Homo sapiens: one gene and its partners. The protein of the gene in region 6 purifies or fractionates together with the protein of the main gene of each other region. This does not show direct contact. Each region holds a gene or a part of one and is shown on either strand. Other genes may lie near its edges. The genes, in order: PAAF1, MIDEAS, FAM133B, RAP1A, CT45A1, PPP4R2 and PUS7.

The links.
Region 1: the proteins of PPP4R2 (region 6) and PAAF1 fractionate together in Homo sapiens (co-fractionation; one large-scale study listed by BioGRID). This does not show direct contact.
Region 2: the proteins of PPP4R2 (region 6) and MIDEAS purify together in Homo sapiens (affinity purification with mass spectrometry; one large-scale study listed by BioGRID and IntAct). This does not show direct contact.
Region 3: the proteins of PPP4R2 (region 6) and FAM133B purify together in Homo sapiens (affinity purification with mass spectrometry; one large-scale study listed by BioGRID and IntAct). This does not show direct contact.
Region 4: the proteins of PPP4R2 (region 6) and RAP1A purify together in Homo sapiens (affinity purification with mass spectrometry; one large-scale study listed by BioGRID and IntAct). This does not show direct contact.
Region 5: the proteins of PPP4R2 (region 6) and CT45A1 purify together in Homo sapiens (affinity purification with mass spectrometry, with the first as the bait; one large-scale study listed by BioGRID). This does not show direct contact.
Region 7: the proteins of PPP4R2 (region 6) and PUS7 purify together in Homo sapiens (affinity purification with mass spectrometry; one large-scale study listed by BioGRID and IntAct). This does not show direct contact.

What each region holds. Positions count from the first base shown.
Region 1 is NC_000011.10:73,879,999-73,883,498, reverse strand, and holds part of PAAF1 (proteasomal ATPase-associated factor 1), read right to left. Parts: intron 1-3,500. UniProt on the Homo sapiens protein: Inhibits proteasome 26S assembly and proteolytic activity by impairing the association of the 19S regulatory complex with the 20S core.
Region 2 is NC_000014.9:73,725,804-73,729,303, forward strand, and holds part of MIDEAS (mitotic deacetylase-associated SANT domain protein), read right to left. Parts: intron 1,722-3,500; coding exon 1,655-1,721; intron 1,170-1,654; coding exon 1,027-1,169; intron 905-1,026; coding exon 801-904; intron 306-800; coding exon 230-305; intron 1-229.
Region 3 is NC_000007.14:92,580,391-92,583,890, reverse strand, and holds part of FAM133B (protein FAM133B), read left to right. Parts: intron 1-2,287; coding exon 2,288-2,385; intron 2,386-3,500.
Region 4 is NC_000001.11:111,626,289-111,629,788, reverse strand, and holds part of RAP1A (ras-related protein Rap-1A precursor), read right to left. Parts: intron 2,320-3,500; exon of another isoform or gene 2,226-2,319; intron 1-2,225. UniProt on the Homo sapiens protein: Counteracts the mitogenic function of Ras, at least partly because it can interact with Ras GAPs and RAF in a competitive manner. Together with ITGB1BP1, regulates KRIT1 localization to microtubules and membranes.
Region 5 is NC_000023.11:135,720,139-135,723,638, reverse strand, and holds the end of CT45A1 (cancer/testis antigen family 45 member A1), read right to left. Parts: intron 2,612-3,500; coding exon 2,363-2,611; intron 1,982-2,362; coding exon 1,888-1,981; intron 664-1,887; coding exon 606-663; 3' UTR 411-605; downstream 1-410.
Region 6 is NC_000003.12:73,059,311-73,062,810, reverse strand, and holds part of PPP4R2 (serine/threonine-protein phosphatase 4 regulatory subunit 2), read right to left. Parts: intron 1,789-3,500; coding exon 1,751-1,788; intron 1,153-1,750; exon of another isoform or gene 730-1,152; coding exon of another isoform or gene 1-729. Other genes in the region: EBLN2 (endogenous Bornavirus-like nucleoprotein 2), read right to left, coding at 1-729. UniProt on the Homo sapiens protein: Regulatory subunit of serine/threonine-protein phosphatase 4 (PP4). May regulate the activity of PPP4C at centrosomal microtubule organizing centers.
Region 7 is NC_000007.14:105,480,772-105,484,271, reverse strand, and holds part of PUS7 (pseudouridylate synthase 7 homolog), read left to right. Parts: intron 1-1,831; coding exon 1,832-1,960; intron 1,961-3,094; coding exon 3,095-3,220; intron 3,221-3,500. UniProt on the Homo sapiens protein: Pseudouridylate synthase that catalyzes pseudouridylation of RNAs.

The DNA of each region.
Region 1 (3,500 bases), on a different chromosome or scaffold from region 6:
AAGAAGTCACACAAAAGGCCATGTATTTTATGATTCCATTTATATGAAATGTCCAAAGTAGGCAAATCCACAGAGCTAGAAAGTAAACTAGTGGTTGCTAGGATTGGGGGGTGGAAAGTGACTGTTAATGGGTATAGACTGTTTTGGGGGTGATACTAGAAATAATATATGTAAAGTAACTAGCACATAGATAGCACACATTTTTATCTCAATAAAGCTGTTATTTAAAAACAAAAACAAGAAACAAGATGGTGGATCACACCTAGAGTCCCAGCTACTTGGGAGGCTGAGGGAGGATCACTGGAGACCAGGAGTTCAAATTCAGCACCTGGGAAACACAGCGAGACCCCATGTATTAAAAAATAAACACAGGAGTTCAAGACCAGCCTGGGCAACATAGTGAGACCTTGTCTCTACAAAAAATTTAAAAAATTAGCCAGGTATGGTAGTGCATGACTGTGGTCCCAGCTACTGAGGAGGCTGAAGTGGGAGGATCTCTTGAACCCAGGAGATCAAGGCTGCAGTAAGCCATAATCATGCAACTGTACTCCAGCCTGGGCAACAGGGCAAGACCCTGTCTCAAAAAAATAAGAACAGGCCAGGCACAGTGGCTCACGCCTGTAATCCCAGCACTTTGGGAGGCCGAGGTGGGCGGATCTCAAGGTCAGGAGTTCGAGACCATCCTGCTTAACACGGTGAAACCCCGTCTCTACTAAAAATACAAAAAAATTAGCTGGGCGTGGTGGCGGACACCTGTAATCCCAGCTACTTCGGAGGCTGAGGCAGAAGAATGGCATGAACCTGGAAGGCGGAGCTTGCAGTGAGCCGAGAACATGCCACTGCACTCCAGCCTGGGCAACAGAGCGAGACTCCGTCTCAAAAAAATTAGCCAGGCGTGGTGGCGCATGTCTGAAATCCCAGCTACTTGGGAGGCTGAGGCAGGAGAATCGCTTGAATCCAGGAGGTGGAGGTTGCAGTGAGCGGAGATCGCACCACTGCACTCCAGCCTGGGCGACAAGAGCGAAACTCCATCTCAAAAATAAATAAATAAATAAATAAATAATAAAAATAAAAATAAACACACACAGAAACAAAAACCACCCTCCTCCTTAAGAGTTGACATCATTAACTCCAATTCATAAAGAAAACTGAATCTACAAGTTACCTTCAAAAAAAAAAAAAAAAAAGTGCAGGCACGGTGCCTCACGCCTGTAATCCCAGCACTTTGGGAGGCCAGGGAGCGGATCACGAGGTCAGGAGATGGAGACCATCCTGACTAACACAGTGAAACCCCATCTCTACTAAAAATACAAAAAATTGCGGGGCACAGTGGCTCACGCCTGTAATCCCAGCACTTTGGGAGGCTGAGGCAGGCGGGTCACCTGAGGTTGGGAGTTCGAGACCAGCCTGACCAACATGGAGAAACTCTGTCTCTATTAAAAAAAAAAAATACAAAATTAGCCAGGCATGGTGGCACATGCTTGTAATCCCAGCTACTCGGGAGGCTGAGGCAGGAGAATTGCTTGAATCTGGGAGGCGGAGGTTGCAGTGAGCCAAGATGGCACCATTGCACTTCAGCCTGGACAACAAGAGCAAAGCTCCATCTCAAAAAAAAATACAAAAAATTAGCCGTGCATGGTAGCACGCGCCTGTAGTCCTAGCTACTTGGGAGGCTGAGGCTGGAGAATTGCTTGAACCCAGGAGGCAGAGGTTGCAGTGAGCCAAGATTGCACCACTGCACTCCAGCCTGGGCAACAGAGTGAGACTCCATCTCAAAAACAAACAAACAAACAAACAAAAAAACTCCTTGGTTGTTGAAGGTAGCTTGGTAATTTAAAACAACAACAACAACAACAACATTAAGTTTGTTGCTTTGTAAAGACTTGATAATGTTTTTTTAAAACTGTTTTAGGCCGGGGGCAGTGGCTCACACCTGTAACCCCAGCACTTTGGGAGGCCAAGGCGGGCGGATCACTTGAGCTCAGGAGTTCAAGACCAGCCTGGCCAACATGGTGAAACCCTGTCTCTACTAAAAATACAAAAATTAGCTGGGCATGGTAGTAGTCCCAGCTGTAGTCCCAGCTATTCAGGAGGCTGAGGCACAAGAATCCCTTGAACCTAGGACTGGAGGTTGCAGTGAGCTGAGATCATGCCACTGCATTCCAGCCTAGGTGACAGAGCTAGATTCTGTTTAAAAAATACTGCTTTAATAGTATGTATCGGCAAGAAAAATGCAAAATATTAGGGAAAAGATCTAAAAAAATATAAACCCCAGTTGATGTTTTGCTCTTAGATTGCTTTTTTAGCCTAAGTAAAGATTTGCCTTGCTTTAAAGAAACTGTGCCTTTTGGTTACAGTTTATTACAAGATAGCCAAGGTCCTTGTAATAATAAGTGGACTAATAAAGAGAAGGTGAATTTTAATGTATGTTTATATATTTTAGTTAAAATAAAATGTAGGTCTTTTGTGTATTTTTATTTTATTTATTTATTTATTTAGAGATGGAGTTTCGCTCTTGTTGCCCAGGCTGGAGTGCAATGGCACGATCTCCACTCACTGCAACCTCCACCTGCTGGGTTTAAGCGATTCTCCTGCCTCAGCCTTCCGAGTAGCTGGGATTACAGGCATGCACCACCACGCCCAGGTAATTTTTTGTATTTTTAGTAGAAACAGGGCTTCACCATGTTAGCCAGGCTGGTCTCAAACTCTTGACCTCAGGTGATCCGCCCGCCACAGCCTCCTAAAGTGCTAGGATCACAGGCGTGAGCTGCTGTGCCTGGCTTTTTTTTTTTTTTTTTTTTTTTTTTTTTTCGAGACAGAGTCTTGCTCAGTCATCCAAGCTGGAATGCGGTGGCACTATCTGGTCTCACTGCAAGCCCCGCCTCCCGGGTTCACTCCATTCTCCTGCCTCAGGCTCCCGAGTAGCTGGGACTACAGGGGCCCACCACCACATCCGGCTAATTTTTTGTATTTTTTTTTAGTAGAGCCACCGCACCTGGCTTTTTTTTTTTTTTTTAACTGAGACAGGGTTTTGCTCTGTCTCTCAGGCTGAAGTACAGTGGCACAATCCTAGCTCAAGCAGTTAGAATAGGATTTTTGAACATAATTAAGCACAATAAAATAGGTAAAATAAAATACAGTATTTTCCTTGAATTTTTATGTTAAGTATACATATGTATATGTGTGTGTGTATATATATATATTTGTGTATTTGTGTGTGTGTTTCTTTTTTTAGAGCCAGGGTCTCACTTTCTGGTCCAGGGTAGGAGACCACGCAGCATGATCACGGCTACCCTTGTCCAGGGTAGGAGGTCCAGTAGCATAATCACAGCTCACTGCAGCCTTGACTTGCTGGGCTTGAGCAATCCTCCCACCTCTGCCTCTTGAGTAGCTGGGACTACAGACACCCAACACCATGCCCAGCTAGTTTTATTTGCTGTAGACACGAGGTCTCCCTATGTCTCCCAGGCTGGTCTCAAGCAATCCTCCGCCTTGGCCTC
Region 2 (3,500 bases), on a different chromosome or scaffold from region 6:
TGGATGGTCTCCCACCTGCCCACTCCCTTCTCCCCTCCCCTCCAGGGCACAGGAAACCCCTGGAGAGCTACCCCAGCTTTGGTGGCAGTTCCCTCACTCTGACTCTTGGCTTATCTACCCTCCTCCTCCCGCCCCCACCCAGGGCTGTGACTCAGCACTGAGCAGGGCCCCATGGATGCTGGAGACCTCTTGAGGCTCCAGGCACCATGCCCACCGCAGCCAGGCCCACCTGTGTAGTGATAAGTTGCCAGCGGATGGTTGTGGGGCCGCAGGGGCTTCTTCAGCAGCAGCTTATTCAGCGTTTCCTGGAGGGGAAGTGAGGGAAGGGTCAGGGCACTGACAGGGGTGTCGGTGGTGGACGGAGCATTCTAGGCCCTGATAAAATCCCGAGTAGGGTGGACACTTACTCTTGCCCCCTTAACTGCTGAGAGATAAGGGGTCCACTGGGGTGGTGAGATCACAGGGGGTGGGGCTGCCCAGAAAACAGACCTCAGGTCCTCTTAAGAGAGTCCATGGCCCCAAGGGAGGCAGCACTGCTGGAGAAGGCTCTCAGCAACCATCCAGTCTGAGTCCACTGACCCAGAATCAGGGATGGGAATGGACAGGAGGACACTGCACAGCAAAACCCGGGGTCTGAAACTAGGGCTCCCTTGGGTCAAGCCCCTACAGCCCCTTCCTTAGTCAGACCCTCCTACTGGCCTCAAATGTGCATGCCAGCAGCCATAGGTCCTGAGCAGCAGACATGGATCCAAGCCAGCCCCCACTGAGGGGCCCTCCCTCTGCTGGGGTTGCCTTCTCACCAGGATGTCTCCTCTGGATTCGTGCAGACAGTGCAGGGCCAGCTCCTGGTTGGTGCCAGCACCAGGGAAAATGCTGGAGCAGGCGGCTGTCAGCAGGTCTTCCACTGGATCCACAGGAGCATGAGGAGGGAGGGGAGGAAACCACGTTCAGGGCGGGGCTGGGCAGGGTGAGGCCTGGCCCACCCATGTGCCTGCCCTCACTTGCTGCCCCCAGGCCCCTCCTCACCTTGCCTCTGCTTCTCCCGGCTGCTCTCTAGGTCCTCCCATGGCTGCCACACCAAGTCAGCCTTGTGGGGATCTGCAGCTGCCAGGGCACGGTCCCTCATCAAGGGGATTTCTGCCTGGAACCGGGAGCCCACGTTGATCCGTCTAGAGGAGTGAAAAGGGCAGGAAGTGAGGCCTCACCTTGCGGGGACGGAGAACTTGATGATCCCTCAGGGTGGGAAGAAGATGAGGGGGAGCCGGCAGAGCAAGGCCTCAGCTAGGTGTAGGGAGTCTGGCTTCTAGGGGCTTGGGAGGACAGCCTGACCTGGCACCACCAGAAAGGCAAGGTCCAGAGGCTGGAGAGGGGAGAAGCAGCTGCAGGTTTACAGATGGGAAAGAGCCTCTGGACCCCCCTTTCAACTCTCCTAGAGATAAGTTCAAGCTGAGCCGGTCCTTGCCCTTCCCTGCAACTTCCACACAGAGGCAGGGCGGGGACAGCAAAGCCCAGGGCCACATACAGAAGCTCAAGGAGGCCCTCTCAGCCCTCTGCAGGCCCCACGGAACCCTCCTGTTGCTCCCAGGGCCCACCTGCACACACTGCACCAGTGTGGCCACCCACACCCCTCGGCCAGGGGCAGGGCTGCACTTACGGCTCGATGCTCACTGGGGTGGCCTCCCCCATCACAGAGAGGACAGGCGGGGTTACTTCAGCACTGTCTATGGGACAAAGAGCAGGTTGATAAATAGCACCCCCCTTTCAGCAAAGCACCCCCAATCCTAGTGGCTGCCCTGTATGTGCAAGAGTCACAGTGGTGACACACAGAGCTCACGCAGGGAACACAGGCACCTGAGTCCTGGCTCTGCAGCCTGTCACCTACGAAAACGCAGGCCCTTCACTAAATATTTGGGTGCCTCAGTTTTCACACTCACCAAAAGGGGCTATCACTACCTGTCTCCTACGGTTAATGTGAGAACTGGATAAAATAATGCACAGAGCCTGGCACTCGATAAAGATTATTATTACTGCTTCTACTACCAAAGCCATATCCTTGCCCCCAGAAGCTCCAACACTAACTCCAACATAAAGCTGTGGTTTTCTAGTAAAGAGACTGAAACTTTGAGCACACTAGGGAGGTGGTGAAGGGGATCGCTGTTTTATAGTTATCGTCTCACTTCCTCTTTGGATTTTCTGCCTCAGTTTCTCCCAAGCTAGTTTTTTTTTTGTTTTTGTTGTTGTTGTTGTTGCTTTTTGAGACAAAGTCTCACTCTGTCTCCGCCCAGGCTGGAGTGCAGTGGTGCGATCTCGGCTCAAGGAGTTGAACCTCCAAGTTCAAGCAATTCTCCTCCCTCAGCCTCCCAAGTAGCTGGAATTACAGGTGTGAGTCACCGTGCCCAGGCCCAAGTTGGTCTTCTTAAGGCCCCACATGATCAAAACACTCCTTTGCTTAAAAAAAAAAAAAAAAAAAAATCTTTGCTCTTTACTGACTCCCTCCTGCAATGTGAGATAAAACCTGCAACCCTCCCCTCAGGGTTCAAGGCGGTTCCGCTTCCATTTGTACCTCCCACCACCCATGTGCCTGGACCTGCATCCTAGCTGACTGCTTACCTCCCAACCCCTCACTCTCCCTGCACGGTCCCATCTACAGGCCTTTGCACCAGTCATTTCCTCCGCCTGGTGTGTCCTCCCTGCCCCCCGCCCTCCTCCATCGCTGCGGCTCAGCTCTGGCCCCACCCCTCTTGAATACAGTCCTCACCATCCCAGGCTAGCTGCTGGGGCTTTGCTCACTGGCTGCAGATCCCACACTACCGGGAACCTCTGTTTTTTCAACTCCAAGGCTTTCATGTCAACTCCCTAATGACCTTGCATTCTCTATAGAACAGACCATGGTGTCCTGTACATTCTTGGAGCCCTCACAGGACCCAGTACAAGGCCTTACGCCCGAGTGTTCGGTAGATACTCGTGGACAGACTGACCTCTCGCTGGCTGCCAGTCTGATCTCTACAATGACTTCCTCTTCCTACACAGCCTAGCCAGGGAGAAGCCTCCCCAGGAAGCAGTACAGAAGGCTGGCCAGCCTAGGGCAAACATTTTGCATCCACAGACACCAGGGGGCACCAGAGAGCTACACCATGGGTGAGGTCACAGTCAAAGGTTAATTGGCCAAAGGCATCTATAAGCTAGCTACTTCCACTTAATCCTCTCTACCACCCTAAGGGATTGGATTATCCCATTTTGCAGAGGAAATGGATCTCTTTATGGAGTGGGCAACATTTTTCAGCAGTACATCACCCCAAGCCAGCCCAATATTTCCAGAATGTCTGCTTTTGGCCAAAAAGACTGTTCGAGAGCCCCAGAGACTAGATCTGCCACAAAGGACTATGAGCAAACAGGATGGCCTGGGCATGATGTTCCAGCTTTATGTGTGCTAATGCACCTGAGCCTAGGAAGTGGCTATTAGGTTGAACCAAAGGAAACTACTATTTGTGAATCCAAAA
Region 3 (3,500 bases), on a different chromosome or scaffold from region 6:
TTTTAGTAGAGACAGGGTTTCACCATGTTGGCCAGGCTGATCTCGAACTCCTGACTTCAGGTGATCCACCCGCCCCAGCCTCCCAAAGTGCTAGGATTACAGGCGTGAGCCACCGCGCCTGGCTGACCCTGTCTTTTAAAAAATAATAATAGTAATAAATAAAATTTTTATTGACTTAAATTTGGAAAAACTAAATAGAAGAGGTAGAGACTGAATTAAAGACCAGACTTTATATCAGTAGCAATGCGAATTTTAATAAAACAACATCGCTTTGCTAAACACTGTCATTAACAAAGAAACCTTTTGCTTTGTTTTGCCTCAATATGTTTTTGAAAAAAATCTCTAAAATATTTTTCTGCTGTAGTAAGTGTAGTAGACAGCATGATTTAAATTTTTGCAGATGTTTTAATTGAGCTAAAATATGTATAACAAAATTTACCATTTTAACTGTTTCTAACTATATAGTTTAGTGACATTAAGTACATTCATAGTGTTGTGCAACCATCATCACTATCCATTTTCATCATCCCAAACAAGAACCTCTGTATCAATAAACAGTAAACTCCCAAATTCCTCTTCTCCCCAGACCCTGGTTAACCTCCATTCTACTTTCTTTTCTAGGTATCTCATATAAATGGAATCATATATTTGTTCTTTTGTGTTTTTCTTGTTTTATTTCATTTAGCATATTTTCAAGGCTCATCCAGGTTGCATATAGTATGTATCAGAATTGCATTCTTTTTTAAGGCTGAATAATATTCCATTGTATGTATATACCACAGTTTTGTTTATCCATTTATCCATAGATGGACATTTGCGTTGTTTCCACATTTCAGCTTTTGTGAATTCTGCAGTTGTGAACATTTGTGTACAAGTATCTGTTTAGTCCCTTCTTTGAATTCTTTTGGGTGTATACCTAGATATAGGATCATGTGGTAGTTCTATGTTTAACTTTTTGAGGGACCACTAAACTGTTTTCCACAGTGGCCACACCGTTTTACATTCCCACCAACAATGTGAAAGGGTTCCAGTTTCTCTGCATCCTTGCTAACCCTTGCAATTTTCTGTTTAATAATAGCCATCCTAATGGGTATAGAATGGCATCTCTTTGTTGTTTCAATTTACATTTCCCTAATGACTAGTGATATTGAACATTTTTTTATGTGTTTATTGGCCATTTACTATATACCTTCTTTAGAGAAATACCTATTCTTCTGCCCATTTTTTAATTACTTGGAGTTTTTTTGTTGTTGTTAAGTTGTAGGAGCTCATTTTACATTCTGGATATTAATCTCTTACTAGATTTATGATTTACAAATATTTTCTCTCATTCTGTGAATTGTCTTTTCACTCTTAACAGTGTCCTTTGATGCACAAACATTTTACATTTTGATGTTCTGTTTATTTTTTTCTTGCCTGCCTACAATTTTTGATGTTAACTATTTATGAATAAAATTGTCATCACTATGACATAGTATTTCGTGGGAGACAAGATGTAGTTGAATAAACAATGAATTTAGAGTTAGATCTTATTTAACTTCTTTGGAAATGAATTTATTTTATTTTATGTTATGTTATTTTATGTTATTTATGTTATGTTATGTTATGTTATGTTATGTTATGTTATGTTATTTATTTTATTTTGAGAGGGAGTCGCTCTGTCGCCCAGGCTGGAGTGCAGTGGCACGATCTCAGCTCACTGCAACCTCTACCTCCCGGGTTCAAGTGATTCTCCTGTCTCAACCTCCCGAGTAGCTAGGATTACAGGCGTGTGCCACCATACCTGACTAATTTTTGTATTTTTAGTAGAGGCAGGGTTTCACCACGTCGGCCAGGCTGGTCTTGAATTCCTGACTTCAGGTGTTCCACCTGCCTCAACCTCCCAAAGTGCTGGGGTTACAGGCGTGAGCCACTGCACCAAGCCTGGAATTGAGTTTCTTAATTTTCTAGTGAACATACTGTTATCACCCTCACAGGGTTACTGGGCTTTAGGAGAAAGAGCTGTAAAGCCATCAGTAGGTCAGAGGTATCTATTATTTCATCAAATCTCTTGTAAAACACACACACACACACACACACACACACACACACACACAATTTTCTCCCAAACTTTTAAGACTTAAAAGAGGATTAAATTAATTTTTTTAGAATAAAGAGTTGGTTAGTCAGATTGCATATACTTAGCTGGATATATTATGCATTTATAGTAAAGATTACTTGATGAGTAAGTGAGGTTTTGCATGTTTAATGATTGCTTTAATGGATTAATTGTTGTTCTTTCCCCAAGGCCTATATGAACCCAATAGCAATGGCGAGATCAAGGGGTCCAATCCAGTCTTCAGGGCCAACAATACAGGATTATCTGAATCGACCAAGGCCTACCTGGTATTTGTGAAACACTTTACCTATTTATAAGCTTTTATCAACTTTTTAAAGTTTATTCTTAAGACTTTAATTGATTTTATTGATTACCAAGCAATTGCCAGATAAGTAATTTTTTTAAGTAACATTTGATATGTGCTTTCTTTTGAATGTGTGAAACACGTGTACAATTATAAAGCAAACATTTAAGAACCCACTACCCAGTATAGCCAAAGCACTGCCAGGTAACTTTTTCATACCAGTCTCTTCTCTATTCCATAAAAGACCCTAACCTTGCAGTGGTCAAAGCTATTTAGTGAGTTTAAGTAGTCTTGTCCTTTACTGATGTGTAACCAGATAGCAGGAAGAATAATATTCAGCTTTGTTTCTAGTTTTATCTGCCAGCTTTTCAATGAATTAGAAAAACTGACTGATTTTTGTAAATAAAGCATCAGAGTATGGGCCATGTTATTCTTTAGTATGTCTTCCTCGTTATTAATACCTTACTCCTGAGACAACATACAACAGGCTTCAGAGCTGTTAACTTCAGAATCCCAAGTGCCCCTGAAAACTAGGCAACTGGTTGAAAAGTATGCTTATGTATAATAGGGAATCCTTCCTTTGAGTTAAATAAGAAGTAAGGATTGTTTACCAGTGTGTGTGAATGCCATTGTTAACCATTGCAGCATACCAGAAAATGCATTATCCCAAAACAAAGTATGTTTTAATGGGGAGAGGGAATGAACTTTCGAGGAGAAATGTCCAAGTAAATATATTACATGTGTATCAGAAATCATCAAGACAGCCCTCAGGTTGAGTAACTCGTAGGGACTCACTGGAGTTTCAGCAGATAGTCGTACTCATGGTAAGATTTATTACTGTGAAGGGCTACCAAGCACAATCAGCAAAAGGAAAAGGCACAGGGAGCAAAGTTTGGGTAAGTCCCGGAACAGGCTTTGAAGGGTCCTCCCCTAGTGGGATCACGTGAGAGGCACTTAATGCCCTTAGTAAGGAGTTGTGATAATACATGTGAGATTTTGGCAACCAATTGAAGCTCATTAGAGACTCAGTGCCCAGGGTTTTTATTGAGGCTGGTCAGCCTCTGCCTGTCATGTACCAAAATTCCAGATTCCAGGGCT
Region 4 (3,500 bases), on a different chromosome or scaffold from region 6:
ACCAGATCTGGGCTTTTGCAGATTCACACAGGAAAAACACAGTATTTGTAAAAAAAAGTCACACGCACACAATCCCCAACACTACGAGCACTGTGAGTTACATTTGCTTATTAATTTAAAAATATTTTCAAGGATAGTTTTAAAGGGAAGAGATTTGAATAAAAATAATAAGTACTTTATTTCTGAATTTAGGCAGTATTTGGAAACTAAAAGAAACATTAAGAAAGGTATGATAACTCACTGTTTTAAAAAATGCAAACACCTTATAAGTATCACAAGCCTGTATTTTTTTAAATTGGTGGTTGCTTCTTTTCTCCATTGGAAGATACCGAGCAGACAATTCACAGTTCATGTGAGTTTACTTATCAGTCAAAAAGAAATACTATTAATATCAATCTCTGGCTAACTTGCTTTATATTATTCAGTCAAGTGGAAAGTATGAGTAGAGCTCTAGTCAGGTTCTAGAATGACTAAAAATGGCATCTGCAAACTCTCTTTTTTTAATTAGGAAAATTCAGGGCTGAGAGAGAAAACAGGAACACTAAAAGTAATGTTTTTCTAAACATCATACACACAATTTCCCATTTTTTTGCTCCTATATTTTACTTAGAAGCTGCTTAACAAACAAGAAGTCTGTATTTCACTTCTCATCACCTCTGCTCACACGACTGGTTTTTTTAAAGTCCTGCAGCAATCACAAATGCTACAAAAACCACATGCAGAAGAATTTCACCTTACAGTGAAGAGTTTTAAGGTAATAGCTCCAGAAATACAAAGTCTAAAAGCGAGGATATCCTGTTAACCAAGAACTCAAAATGCTAACTAAATAAAATTACTGCAGGAGATTGTACATATATATTTTTAAAAGCATAAATATATGCTTTTTACTGACGAAATGATAGGAATCTTGGAATGTTTTATCCTTCAATTTTTAAAAAAACAATAGTAACAACCAAAGTGTACTGAGTCCCATCTTCTCTCAAAGGCTGCCTAACTGCATGTAAGCCTAGGCTGTTTCTTTTGAATTTGATCTCCAAATTGGTTGTACAGATCTTCACAAACATGAAGCCTAAGCACTTCCTCCAAAACCCTCCCTTTTGTTTTCCTTTAAACCCTCAGATCTTACCTTACCTGTGTTACTATTAATCCAGATTCCCTGTCTTCAACCTCTTCCTTCCTCAATTCATTCTTTACTCTACAAGCGAATTCATCTGCTTTTCGATGAATGCTTTTATCAAGTCATTTTCCACATACCAAAGCTTGTACTCCTGAAAAAGTCTACACTTATCAACGTAGCATTCAATGGCTTAAAAGTCTAGCCCCAATCTCCATAATTCTCCCTTATCTCCATATTTTCTAACTATACAAAAGCCTAGGCTTCTGTCAAATTAATCACCTGTCCTCCAACTTCTCCTGAACTTTCTTTCTATCTTGGCACATGCCATTCCTACCACAAAGAATGTCCACCATTCCCCTCCTGCTGCCACTGCTCACCACAGCCCATTTGCATTTCAGTATTTATTCATGTAAACAGAAACACAAAAATGAGATATTTCTTGCCCTTGAGGAGACTGGCAGAAAAAACAAATTTAACGAAAATAGCTAGTTTTTATTAAATACCTATGTGCCAAGTGGTCTTACACATTATTCTAATCCTCTCAACAATCCTATGGGGTAGATATTATTCTCCTTTTATAAAAATAAGGAAGCCAAGGTTCAGAAAAATCAAATCATACACATATTTAGCAGGTTGCCTCCAATCATGTACTTAGTAAGTGGCAAAGCAAGGACACAAACCCAGGCTGCCCAACTCCAGAGCTACTGCTCTAAACATTCACAGATTTTTTTTTTGTTTTTTCAAAGTCAGAACCATGTGACTACCCCCCTCATCTATCTGAAATAATTTAGTTTTACATAATATTTATATTTATTACATACTATAAAACAAGCTTTCTCATGTTTGTCATTTTAATAAAAGAACATTAAAATTCTAGCTCTCCAAAAAAAAAAATGCTGAAATTCCAACTTTAATCAGTAATTTTTTTTTTGGTCACAGATTACTTTTACCTAAAATATTTTTAAAGAAACTCATTTCAGGACAATTGCAAATTTCTTTCATACACTATGATGGTTTTACAGATTATTAATAATATGAGGATTTCTGCTATTACCACCCAAGAATGTAACAGATATCTATCACATTGGCAAAGATTGTAAAAACTGACCTACTCAATGCCATTGAAGGTGCAGTGAGACACATACTCTTATACACAGGGTAATCACCCTCTGATCCAGTTATCCCACTTCTGGGAATCTATCCTACAGGAAGAAAAAAAAAACAGAGATGCAATCAAAGATACATGTACAAAAAATGTCTGTCCCAGTGTTATTTAAAACAGTAATATTATAAAGAATCAACTTTAAAGTCTCAAACTAGGAGACCAACATCCCATTCAGGAAAAAAAAGTATGATCAAAACAGTATATATAAAGTTATAATTCTAAGTTTCGTAAAAAAAATAAATAAAAAATCCGTACATGCAAGGAATAAACTGGAAAAATGTATATTAAAGTATCAGTAGTAATTTTTTCTGGATGATAGGATCATGGATGTTTTCAATTTATTCTTTACACTTAACATTTTTTTCAAAATTTGCCACAGTATAACATGAATTACTTTAAACAGAAAAAAAAATGTTTAAGCAGTTATAACCACTGAAAAAGATCCTGAACCTAACAAGGGCATATTACTTGGAATAAGAAATACATTTCCTAGTGCAAAGAAAACGTCAGACTTGTTACCAGCTTCTATTATGCCCAGCAGCTTGTTTCCAGCTTCTATTATGCTCACCTTTACTTTTAGGTTGTGTAAAGAATGTCATCCAAAACTCAGTAGTACCTGTATTTATGAAACTGCACAAGGCTCACTATCTAAAAGTCAGCCAATGTTCCAAGAGAAAGAATCACAGTTAAATGGACTATTTTATTATATATGTCTACTGAGAATAATACAAGTCCAATTAATCCAAACTCAAAACATGCAAAAATGGAAAAACCAGAAAAATTGTTCTCATTTTGCAAACTAACTAAATATATTATTGTTGCCTTATAAACACATCATAATTAATTAGGTCGGGAGAGAAGAGGATCTTGAAAATAAAACTGTCAAGCTAACAACAGTCACTAAAAATGCACATTTACGCATGCTATTTGCACATTTCTGTCCTAGCAGATACTTGACTTTAGTGGCAAAGGATGATTTTAATCAGTGTAGAAAAAAATATTAACATCCCATTCTACAAAACAACTTCTGACGTTAAACAGAGAATTGAAATTGCTAGCTGAACCAGGAAACAACTTCCCTACAACGTGTGTATATACATGCATATGTGTGTGTGTGTGTGTGTGTGTGTGTGTGTATGTATACATATGCAGAAAAGCTATTTACAAAAAATAAGTCTTGGACTGAAGTAAAACAGGCAGTAAAGCAAACAATTCTTA
Region 5 (3,500 bases), on a different chromosome or scaffold from region 6:
TACAGATTTCAACATTGAGATCGGGTTCCCACTACACCAGGGGCTAAGGAAGAGTATGTGTGATATGTCTAGAGAGCTTCTTAGTCCTCCCGTGTTTTTCGATTAGAGTTAATGGAAGATCACAGCAACCCCATCCAGGCAGGACATCTAATGGTTCAGACTCTTCCGTAATGAAGGTTTGAGTCATCCTGCCAGGCCAAGCATCATGACCAACTGACATGCTATCTCAGGGCAAAGGGAATGTGAAATGGGTAGCGAAAGAACGTAGTGATAAATACCAGCTACAACACTGTGAGCTGCTGCAGAAACCACGACTGTAATAGTATTTACCTAATGGGTTAATAATATCTACCAGCACAGGTGGGAATACAAAATAACCAAAACACAAGTTATCCTTTCAAATAAAATGCTTTGGGAAAAAGAACATCTTTTACTAACAGAAATTTCTTAGCCTCTGGAAGGCTATTTGATTCGGTAACATATGCCAGGAGACTTCAGCAATATCCTGCTCCATTGTAGAAAACAGCAATCTGATCCTTTTCTCTCCTCAATCATTAACGAGATTATGCATTTGGGGTGTGATAATCCTCCAGGGACAAGTATTCTCAAATCATACGTTTCAGTTTCTTCTTAAGGTGCTTAACAAAGTCTCGTCTCATACATCTGAAAAGAAAGAGACATGTCATTAACCAAAAGATAGCCAAAGAACCTATGCTGTAGGAAGCGCTGTGACAGATAGAAAGATGAAGTAACAGTCAGCATGGAAATAGAAATGTATCTGCATGGTAAGAGGCAGTCTAGCCGGCATAACAAATGCTGGCAAGGGTGTGGAGAAAAGGGAACCTTCATACACTGTTGGTGAGAATATAAATTACTACAACAACTAACTATGAAGAACAGTTTGGAGGTTCCTCAAACAACTAAAAATGGAGCTATCATATGATCCAGCAATCCCACTGCTGGGTATATACCCAAGAGAAAGGAAGTCAGTGTACCGAACAGATATCTGCACTCCCATGTTTGTTGCAGCACCATCCACAGTAGCCAAGATTTGGAAGCAACCTAAGTGTCCACTAACACATGAATGGGTAAAGAAAATATGGTACATATACACCACAGAGTACTGTTTAGCCATAAAAAAAAGAATGAGATTCAGTCATTTGCAACAACACGGATAGAACCGAAGGTCCTTATGTTAAGTGAAATAAGCCAGGCACAGAAAGACAAACTTCACATGTTCTCACTTATTTTTGGGAGTAAAAGTGTAAAACAACTGAACTAATGGAGATAGAGAGTAGAATGACAGTTACCAGAGGCTACAAAGGTTAGTGGGGGTGGAGGGTGTGGGAAGTGGGGATGATTAATACGTAGAAGTATGGAATAAATAAGATGTCGTATTTCATAGCCAAACAGGGTGACTATAGTCGGTAATAATTTAATTGCACATTTAAAAATAATGAAGAGTATAATTGTATTCTCTGTAACGCAAAGGATAAAAGCTTGAGGTGATAGAAACCCCACTTACCTTGATGTGATTATTACACATTGTTGTCTGTATCACAATATCTCATATAGCCCAGAAATATATGCATCTGCTATGTGCCTACACAAATTTTTTAAAAAGAGGTAGTCTAGCAAATACAAAGAGTGTCAATTGAGGGACAATGCGCACCTCAGACTATGGTGAAAATGGAAGTCTCCATAGTCTTCGAAGAATGAGTTACACTCAGATAACATTAGCCTAAGTAACTGTGGAGACAGCCGTAACTGTGAGTGAGGACCAGGGTTTGAGAAACGCAAGGCAGGGGCTGTTCCCCAACGCTCACCCCCAGTGCTCTATTGAGCCCAAGTGCTTAAAGAAATTGGACAGTTCCTATTTCTACCCACCTTGCTGCTTCCTTGATGATGGATTCAAAAAATCGCTTCCTGACTGCAGTAGGTCCTTGCACTCCTTCAAGCATTTCGAAGATTTTTTCATATTCTGAAGATGTTGAAAAAAAAAAAACTTCAGTATTATCAAATATAAAGAAGAATAGAAGTGAATCTACACCTCAGCAATCATGCTTCAGAGGCTGAAATGTTTTAAATGCTTAAATCAAGATACCTGCACATACAAAACCTAAATAATAAAAAAGACACCTGCACATACATACGAATGTAACTCCTTTAACCATAACCAAGTAAGAAAAGAAAAAGAAAAAATGTACATGCTTTAGTCAAAGAAAAGAGGAACCACCATAAATTATGTGCAATCTCAACTCTGGCAAAGAATGAAACTCAACAGGCAACATGAATATCTTCTGAATCATAGAAAGAGAGACTTCCTATAGTTTTATAAAACAGACATTCTTATATTACTTACTTTGTCCAACGCATCGGAGTTCCTTCACTAATTTACGTTTTATATCAGCATTAATTTCTCGTTGGCTTTTGGGAGAGGAGGCTGTTTCTCTGCATTCTAGGTCATCTCCAGAGAAACTGCTGGTAACGTTTCCTCCCACAGGTGCATTGCTACCAGGTTTCTGCATCATCCTATCTTTGCTGAAACCAGTGAAGTCATCAATCTGAGAATCCAATTGGCTGGGTGGAATAGCATGTCCTGTCATAAGCTCTGGTGAAACAGATTTTGAGTAAAAGCCATCAGTTGGTGTTTGACCACTTTCTTTCCCCTCCACATAGACCTCATGAATGACAGCTCTGGAAATCAAACTGAGAAGCTGAGCTGTGAGATATGTGTGTTTCATCACCCCTCTGGGTACATCTATGTGCTCCTCAGTTTCTAGGGAATTATTTATTTCATAAATGGGAGGATACACCAGGGAGAAATCCCAGGCCTGACAAACGGAGGCCAGGACACATAATACAATAAAACCACCTCTTATTTTCTGGCCCTATGAATAGACATGGAAACCAAGTAAGGCAGTACAACTCTAAAGCAACATTCACAGATCCCTGGTACTCATGGGACAGTTTCAGCTTGTTATGCTTTACAAGTTGAAAGCAGCAAGTCTCACTTGATATCATGATTTCTCAAATTCACTTACAAACTGCCATGTTTTACTAAGCTGGAAGCCAGACAACTTGGACACACCTCAACCAGCCTCCTCTCTACATCAAACATATTCTGAGAAAATAGAGGTGGCCATTACTGCTGAAAGTTCTACATGTACTCCATCAACAAAAAATCCCTTTTAGTGTATGATTTTCCTCATCCTTCCTTTCTGTCTCACAAAAGTGACTTTCTTTTCACTCCAGGTCTGACACCTCTCATTTATTCATCGTCTGTGGCAGGCAGCGTGCCGGTAGCTGGGGATCAGCAGTAAACAGCCCAGAGAGCAACGTTCCCTGCCCTTCTGGAGCTCACATCCTCATGGGGCGGTCAGACAGTACGTGCACAATGAGCAAATGAAACATACAGTGTTGGGCTAGTGGTAAGGAAGCAGTCCACAGGCCTGTGGGCAACAGCAGCAGAGGGAGCCCCAGGAGCTGCTGCTGGTTGG
Region 6 (3,500 bases):
GATCCAACCTATGGCTGATTCTGCATTGCAGCTGATTAGCAGATCAGCACTCTCACCATGTGAAAGTCTTCCAATAGATGCCATCATTGCCTTGAATCGTCTCTGAACTTGGAGACTGCTGGTGCAAATCTTATCACTTGATCCAGCCGCAATGCCTATCAAAAGGTCACAGCAGTGGCGGAGAACTGATGACTTCTCAAGGGCAATAAAGTTAGGCATATCTTTGAATCTGCTAGCATAAGGAGTACCCCTTTCCTCGTTCTCATTCCCAACCACAGTATTAGACCTCTTGCTCACACCAACACTCAGTAATGCCTGGTGTAACCCATCAAATATGAAACACAAGAATACTAAACTTGGGGTCACAGGGTGGAAATGAGATTTATGTGCTGGGTCTAGCATAGACTTGGCTGCTTTTTTAATGTCCTTAATATCCCCAATGCTGGGTTGGGGTTCCAATGCATCCAGTGGATACTGTCTGTTTTTCCCAGATAGCTCAAATCTTCCTTGAAGGTCAGGGAGCCCACTCCTGTCCATTGCGTCATCTCCTGGGCTGCTGGGCTGTGAGTCCTTTCTTAGATGAGACATTGTGGAAAATTGGTTCCGACTTAATTCTTTAATTTTGTTAAGAATCATAGGTCTAAAAGATCTTTTGTAAGATCTGTCACAGACCCAAACAAAAAGACTGTGAGAATTAACATAAGCATACAATTTAAGAAAATAACCCATTATTAGTCGCTATGACTTGACTCTGCACTTCTTTACCATTTTTCCAAAATACCTCACGTTCATGAGCAAAACAAAACATATTTTGCTTCATAAAAGAAATTTTTATCATGTATACATTTTAATAGTTTTTCTGTCAAGAAATATAGTATGGGATTATTTTAGTATCTTATTTAGCAACATAACTATATTCTTGGGAACATTCTAAAAACAAATTGACTGGGCTGGGTGTGGTGGTTCACATCTGTAATCTCAGCACTTTGGAAGGCCAAGGCGGGAGGATCACTAGAGTTTAAGGCTGCAGTGAGCTATGATCACTCATCACCGCACTCCAGCCTGGGTAACAGAGTAGTCTATGAAAGCAGAGCCAGATTAACCTTAAACCAATGGTTCTCAGCAGGGGACAACCTCCCCTCCCTGCCTTTCACATCTCCAAGAGACATTTGGCAATGTCTAAAGATATTTGGAGAGGGGAACACTACTGGCATAAGTGGGTAGAGGTCAAGGACAGTGCTAAACCTCTTATAATCCCCAGGACACCCACTCACAACAGAATTATCTGGTACAAAATGTCCATAGTTCCAAGGTTGAGAAATTGTATCCAAATTTAATTCTTACTTTGCTATATCTAAATCTTGACAACTGGAAATATTTTCCATCATAAAGAGAAAAGCCATCAAGTAGTTATTCCAAACATGGGAATTATGCCCTAGAGACACCCTGGAAAGGCATCTAGAATGGCATCTCAGGGCAATGAGTGCCACCACAGTATGTAAATCCAACAATATTAAAATTACAGTAAATCACCAATCTCTTTAATCCAAATCTCTTTAATGGAAAAAACATATAGATAATGTTATTAGTAATATTCTACTTTGGGGACTGAATGGTAGGTTCACAAGTATGTTATCACACTTAATTACATATTAAATAAATTCAGTCTATTTTAAGAATAATATATTAGAAGCAATAAAATGATTAAATATAGTAAATAATATACTAGAAATAGAAAAAATATACTTACTCTGAAGAAGGATAAACACAGCTAACAACCATCACATTCTGCAATAACAAAAATCAGTGATTTAGTATGAAGAAAAGTACTACAACATAAAGTTTCATCATTTTTGTTTCTAAAATCACTCTGGTGGGTTAAATTCCCATTGATTCTAATTTTGCTAGTAAAGGAAAATGGTTAAAAATGAAAACTGGTGAAACAGCAAAAACTAAAACAATAACAAAGGACCAAAAGAGAATATCCTACTCAGCCACTAATTTTTTTTTTCCTATACTTATTTTTTACCCTAATCTAGTTATTCTAGACCCGTAACATCATACACTATACGTAGTAGAGTAACTAAGCTCAGATGGAATCAACAAAGATGTTGAGAGATTGAAGTACTTAAGACATATGTAATTGATTTTCCTTACAAAGCAACACCCAATCCACGGCTTGTTGTGTTGCATCATATATCCCACAGAAAGAGACTCAAACCTTTTTTGTAATATATTTATGATCTTCCCAGTAAAAATAACTTTACTAATATTCAGTGTTCACTGAAAGTTTAGTATGAGTCACAGTAAGTGTTTTGCATTTAATCCCCCTCCCAGCCCTATTATTAACCACATTTTACAGAGGAGAAAACTAACTGGCCCAAGGTCACACAACTATGAAACACTGCAACCCTGATTTAAAGGCAGGGCACCTGGTATGACTACTGTAACATATTGCTACTTTATCTGAAAATCTCCAAAATGTAATTATTACAACTCCTGGAGCTGAAAAGTAAGTACTGATGAGCCATCTCAGTTTCCTGGCCTTTGGGGATATTATTCAATTGAGTGTACAGAGGATCAACAAAATATATTAATCCAGTATGGCCACAAAAACTACTGTAAATCACTATGTAATGGTTTTTGATTCCTGTTCCCAGGGTAAAATAAAGTGGATTTGAACCAGATCCTTAAATGAACAGGGGAGTGTTTCCGGACCAACCATCAACTGAAAATTAGAACTCATTAGTCCAATCTTGGTTCTCACAGGGCTTCCTTCATTTTTCACTCAAGACAAGTCAATTTCTTACTTTTCATTCCCTTAAACACCTTGAATCTTTGTTCTTCACACCATTTCCTTTTTTTTTTTTTTTTCTGAGACAGAGTCTCACTTTGTTGCCCAGGCTGGAGTGCAATGGTGCCATCTCAGCTCTCTGCAACCTCCGTCTCCCAGGTTCTAGCAATTCTCCTGCCTCAGCCTCCTGGGTAGCTAGGATTACAGGCGTGCACCACCACGCCCGGCTAGTTTTTGTATTTTTTGCAGAGACAGGGTTTCACCATGTTGGCCAGCCTGGTCTCGAACTCCTGACCGTGATCCACCCACCTCAGCCTCCCAAAGTGCTGGAATTACAGGCATGAGCCACCACACCCAGCCCACACCATTTCCTTTATTCAGAATACCCTTCCCTTATTCTAACACTCCCTCAACCCCCTCCACACACAAACACTAATGTTTATCTCTAAATCTGACCTGCATCTTTCTACTCAATACCTCATTTACATGCTTGGCACCAGTAAGTTTCCAAAGTTATGTACCTTTGAACTCCAGAATTGAGAAAATGAATTCCATGTGTAAGTTTATAAAACACTCTATAAAGTTAAAATAGCAATTATAACTTCACAGAACCTTTAATAAGTTGATATACACTATGAATTTCCAAGAAATAATAAGCTGCTTTCACCAAACTTCAATGACCAACACACAAACCCTCCTCTACCCG
Region 7 (3,500 bases), on a different chromosome or scaffold from region 6:
ACAGTAATAATCAATTCAGCCAACAATCATGCTTGGGTACCTAAATAATTGGGTAAAGACTTTGGGGGAACAGGATTTTTACACAATTTCAAAAGTATTTCCCCACTGATGACTAATTAAAAGCAAAGACAAAGAGACTCTTAGAGTGTAAAAATCTAGTAAATACTATCCTAATTAAATGATTAAAGTTATTATCATTGTTGGACAAAATCACTGCCTTTTGATGTGATGCATTGAAAAGGGCCATATCACCTCAGTAATATTTCTACCAAAGTGTTTACCTGAGTCTCAGCATGAGGAAACAATCAGATAAATCCACATTGAAAGACGTGTAAAAGCGCTGGCCTGGATTCTTCTAAGGGCCAGATATCATGAAAAACAAGGCTAGACAGATCACTTAGTGGAAACCAAACAGACATCACAGCTGCAATGTGTGATCCTCAATTGGATCCTGGCAGCCTAAAAAACAAAAAGATGGCCAGGTGCACTGGCTCATGGCTGTAATCCCAACACTTTGGGAAGCTGAGGTGGGTGGATCACTTGAGGCCAGGAGATCGAGACCAGCCTGGCCAACATAGTGAAACTCTGTCTCTACTGAAAATACAAAAAAACATAGCCAGGTGTGGTGGCATGTACCTGTATTCTCAGCTACTCGGGAGGCTCAGGCAGAAGAATCTCTTGAACTTATCTCACGCCTGTAATCGCAGCACTGTGCGAGGCCAATGTGGGTGGATCACCTGAGGTCAGGAGTTCAAGACCAGCCTGGCCAACATGGTGAAACCCGTCTCTACTAAAAATATAAAAATTAGCTGGGCACGGTGGCTCATACCTGTAATCTCAGCACTTTGGGAGGCCGAGGCGGGCGGATCACCTGAGGTCAGGAGTTCAAGACCAGCCTGGCCAACATGGTGAAACCCCATCTGTACTAAAACTAAAAAAAAATTAGCCGGGCATGGTGGTGTGCGCCTGTAAGCCCAGCTACTTGGGAGGCTGAGGCAGGAGATTCACTTGAGCCAGGGAGGCAGAGTGAGCTGAGATCATGCCACTGCACTCCAGTCTGGGCAACAGAGAGAGACTGTCTCAAAAAAAAAAAAGGAAAGAAAGAAACAACATTGGGTGTTAGTGGTGACACTAGAGATAAAAAGGGGAGAAAGGCTTTTCAGTACTCTGTTTCTCTATATACATTTCCTATTGAAGAAGGCAAGGAATTTCTAATGAAAATTTCTATATATTGATAGCAGCATGATACAGATTTGGGTAGAATTCCAGCTATATATAACATGTCTTTTAAAAAAAGAAAGGGAGGAAATAAAAAGTTAGATGTCAGTGGAAATTTTTTTCAGGCAATGAAAATATGAATTTCTTTTCCTTTTCTCTTTTTTATATTTTCCAAGTTTTCTGTAATGAGTTTACAAAATTTTTCTGATTGACAAAAATAATGACCTTTTTTTAAATGCTTGATACCATTCTTTCTATGGGATTTGTCTCTGTCCCCATCCCTTTTCTCACCCCTCTCCCCACAAAAAGTAGAAAATTCCACAGATATTATTGTTCTGTTACTCATCAGCATGTAAATAACAAGAGGCTTTAAGTATATAAAATATGGCCAGGAGTATGCAATTTGAACAGGAGCACGTACCATTACACTGAAGGAAGAATGCAGAGAGAAGAGAAGGACACGCCCACCTCACCTGCTGCAGTGCCTTTTCCTTTCAGGGGGTCATAGGTGTGCTGTATCTTGTTTTCTGTACTGTTCCAAGCAGACAATCAGTATCTCATGATCCTCTTTCTACTCTTTTTTGTTTTGTTGCTTTTTTTTTTTTTTTTAAAGAATAACTGCACAAAGACTTGCCCACCTGAATAAGTGCTTGATGAACTTTAAGCTAGGGAATTTCAGCTATCAAAAAAACCCACTGAAATTGGGAGAGCTTCAAGGAAACCACTTCACTGTTGTTCTCAGGTAAAGAACTGCAGGTGGGAATGTAGACCAGAGGGTCTGGCCAGGGCATCTTGAGTATGTTACTCACGGTTGGTCATAAGGTCCTGGTGAGCTGGTACTAACAGAACAGGAGTGGCAGCAAGGGAGGGCAGAGCAGGGCCTGGCAGGGCTGGGAGAGCAGATACCTCTGTGAGAGCAAATACCTCTGTAGGATTTGTGTGGACACCTTGCCCCTTGAAAACCTAGTGCAGCCTTTGGAAAGACACCATCTCCTTCAAATATTGTAGTAAAAGACACCGAGCCGGCTGGGCGCAGTGGCTCACGCCTGTAATCCCAGCACTTTGGGAGGCCTTGGCAGGTGGATCACAAGGTCAGGAGATCGAGACCATCCTGGCTAATACGGTGAAACCCTGTCTCTACTAAAAATACAAAAAATTAGCCGGGCGTGGTGGCAGACACCTGTAGTCCCAGCTACTCAGGAGGCTGAGGCAGGAGAATGGCGTGAACCGAGGAGGCAGAACTTGCAGTGAGCCGAGATCGCTCCACTGCACTCCAGCCTAGGGGACAGAGTGAGACTCCAACTCAAAAAAAAAAAAAAGACACTGAGCCTGTGATTCCACTTAAAGCGCCTAGAATAGGCAAATCCATGGACATAGAAAGTAAAATAGTGGTTACTGGGGAAAGGGTAGGGTAGGGGTAATGGAAAGTTACTGTTTAGGGGTACAGAGTTTCATTTTGGAAACGGGAAAAAATTTGGGAAGTAGATAGTGGTGAGGATTGTCCAACATTGTGCATATAATTAACCCATTTATGCTAGTGTTCCATTATTGGAACACTAAGCATGTAGGAATTATTTATATCCTACTGCTCAAGGTCATCGCCAAGGTCTGATTGCAAAAATTCAAAAAATTGCAACCTCTGCCATAAATGGGTTAATACCGCCAAATTGCACACTTAAAAATGGCTAAAATAGTAAATTTGACATTATAAATATCTTACCACAACTTAAAGAAAGAAAGAGCCCTTGGGAGGTAGAGAGAAAGCTGCAGGAGAGTGAACGAAAGACTTGGAAGCCAGGCCGTAGTCATTTATGAGCTGCATCCCTGAGTATTTGACTGTAACTTTTTTTCCTCTGGATAATTTGTGTCCCTGTAGAAATATAACAGGAACTGATGACCAAGTACAGCAAGCTATGAACTCTCTCAAGGAGATTGGATTTATTAACTACTATGGAATGCAAAGATTTGGAACCACAGCTGTCCCTACGTATCAGGTTGGAAGGTTGGTATTTAATTTCTTTTATCAAAAATAGCTTTCTCATAAACAAAGCAGGGTTTGTTGGTGGTGGTGTTTTTAATTATTTCTACGTTCTCCCATGTCTGGGGCAAATGAACCACAGTTTCATGATTTTTGTTTTAAGTTAATGAGTGCACAGGGTAAAAAATCGGAGTTCAAAAGGATATGACCTGAAAAGTGAGCTTTCCTACCACTCTTGGTTACCCATCCAGGGGTTCTATTTTTATTTTTTTATTTTATTTTATATATTTATTTTTTCTGAGAC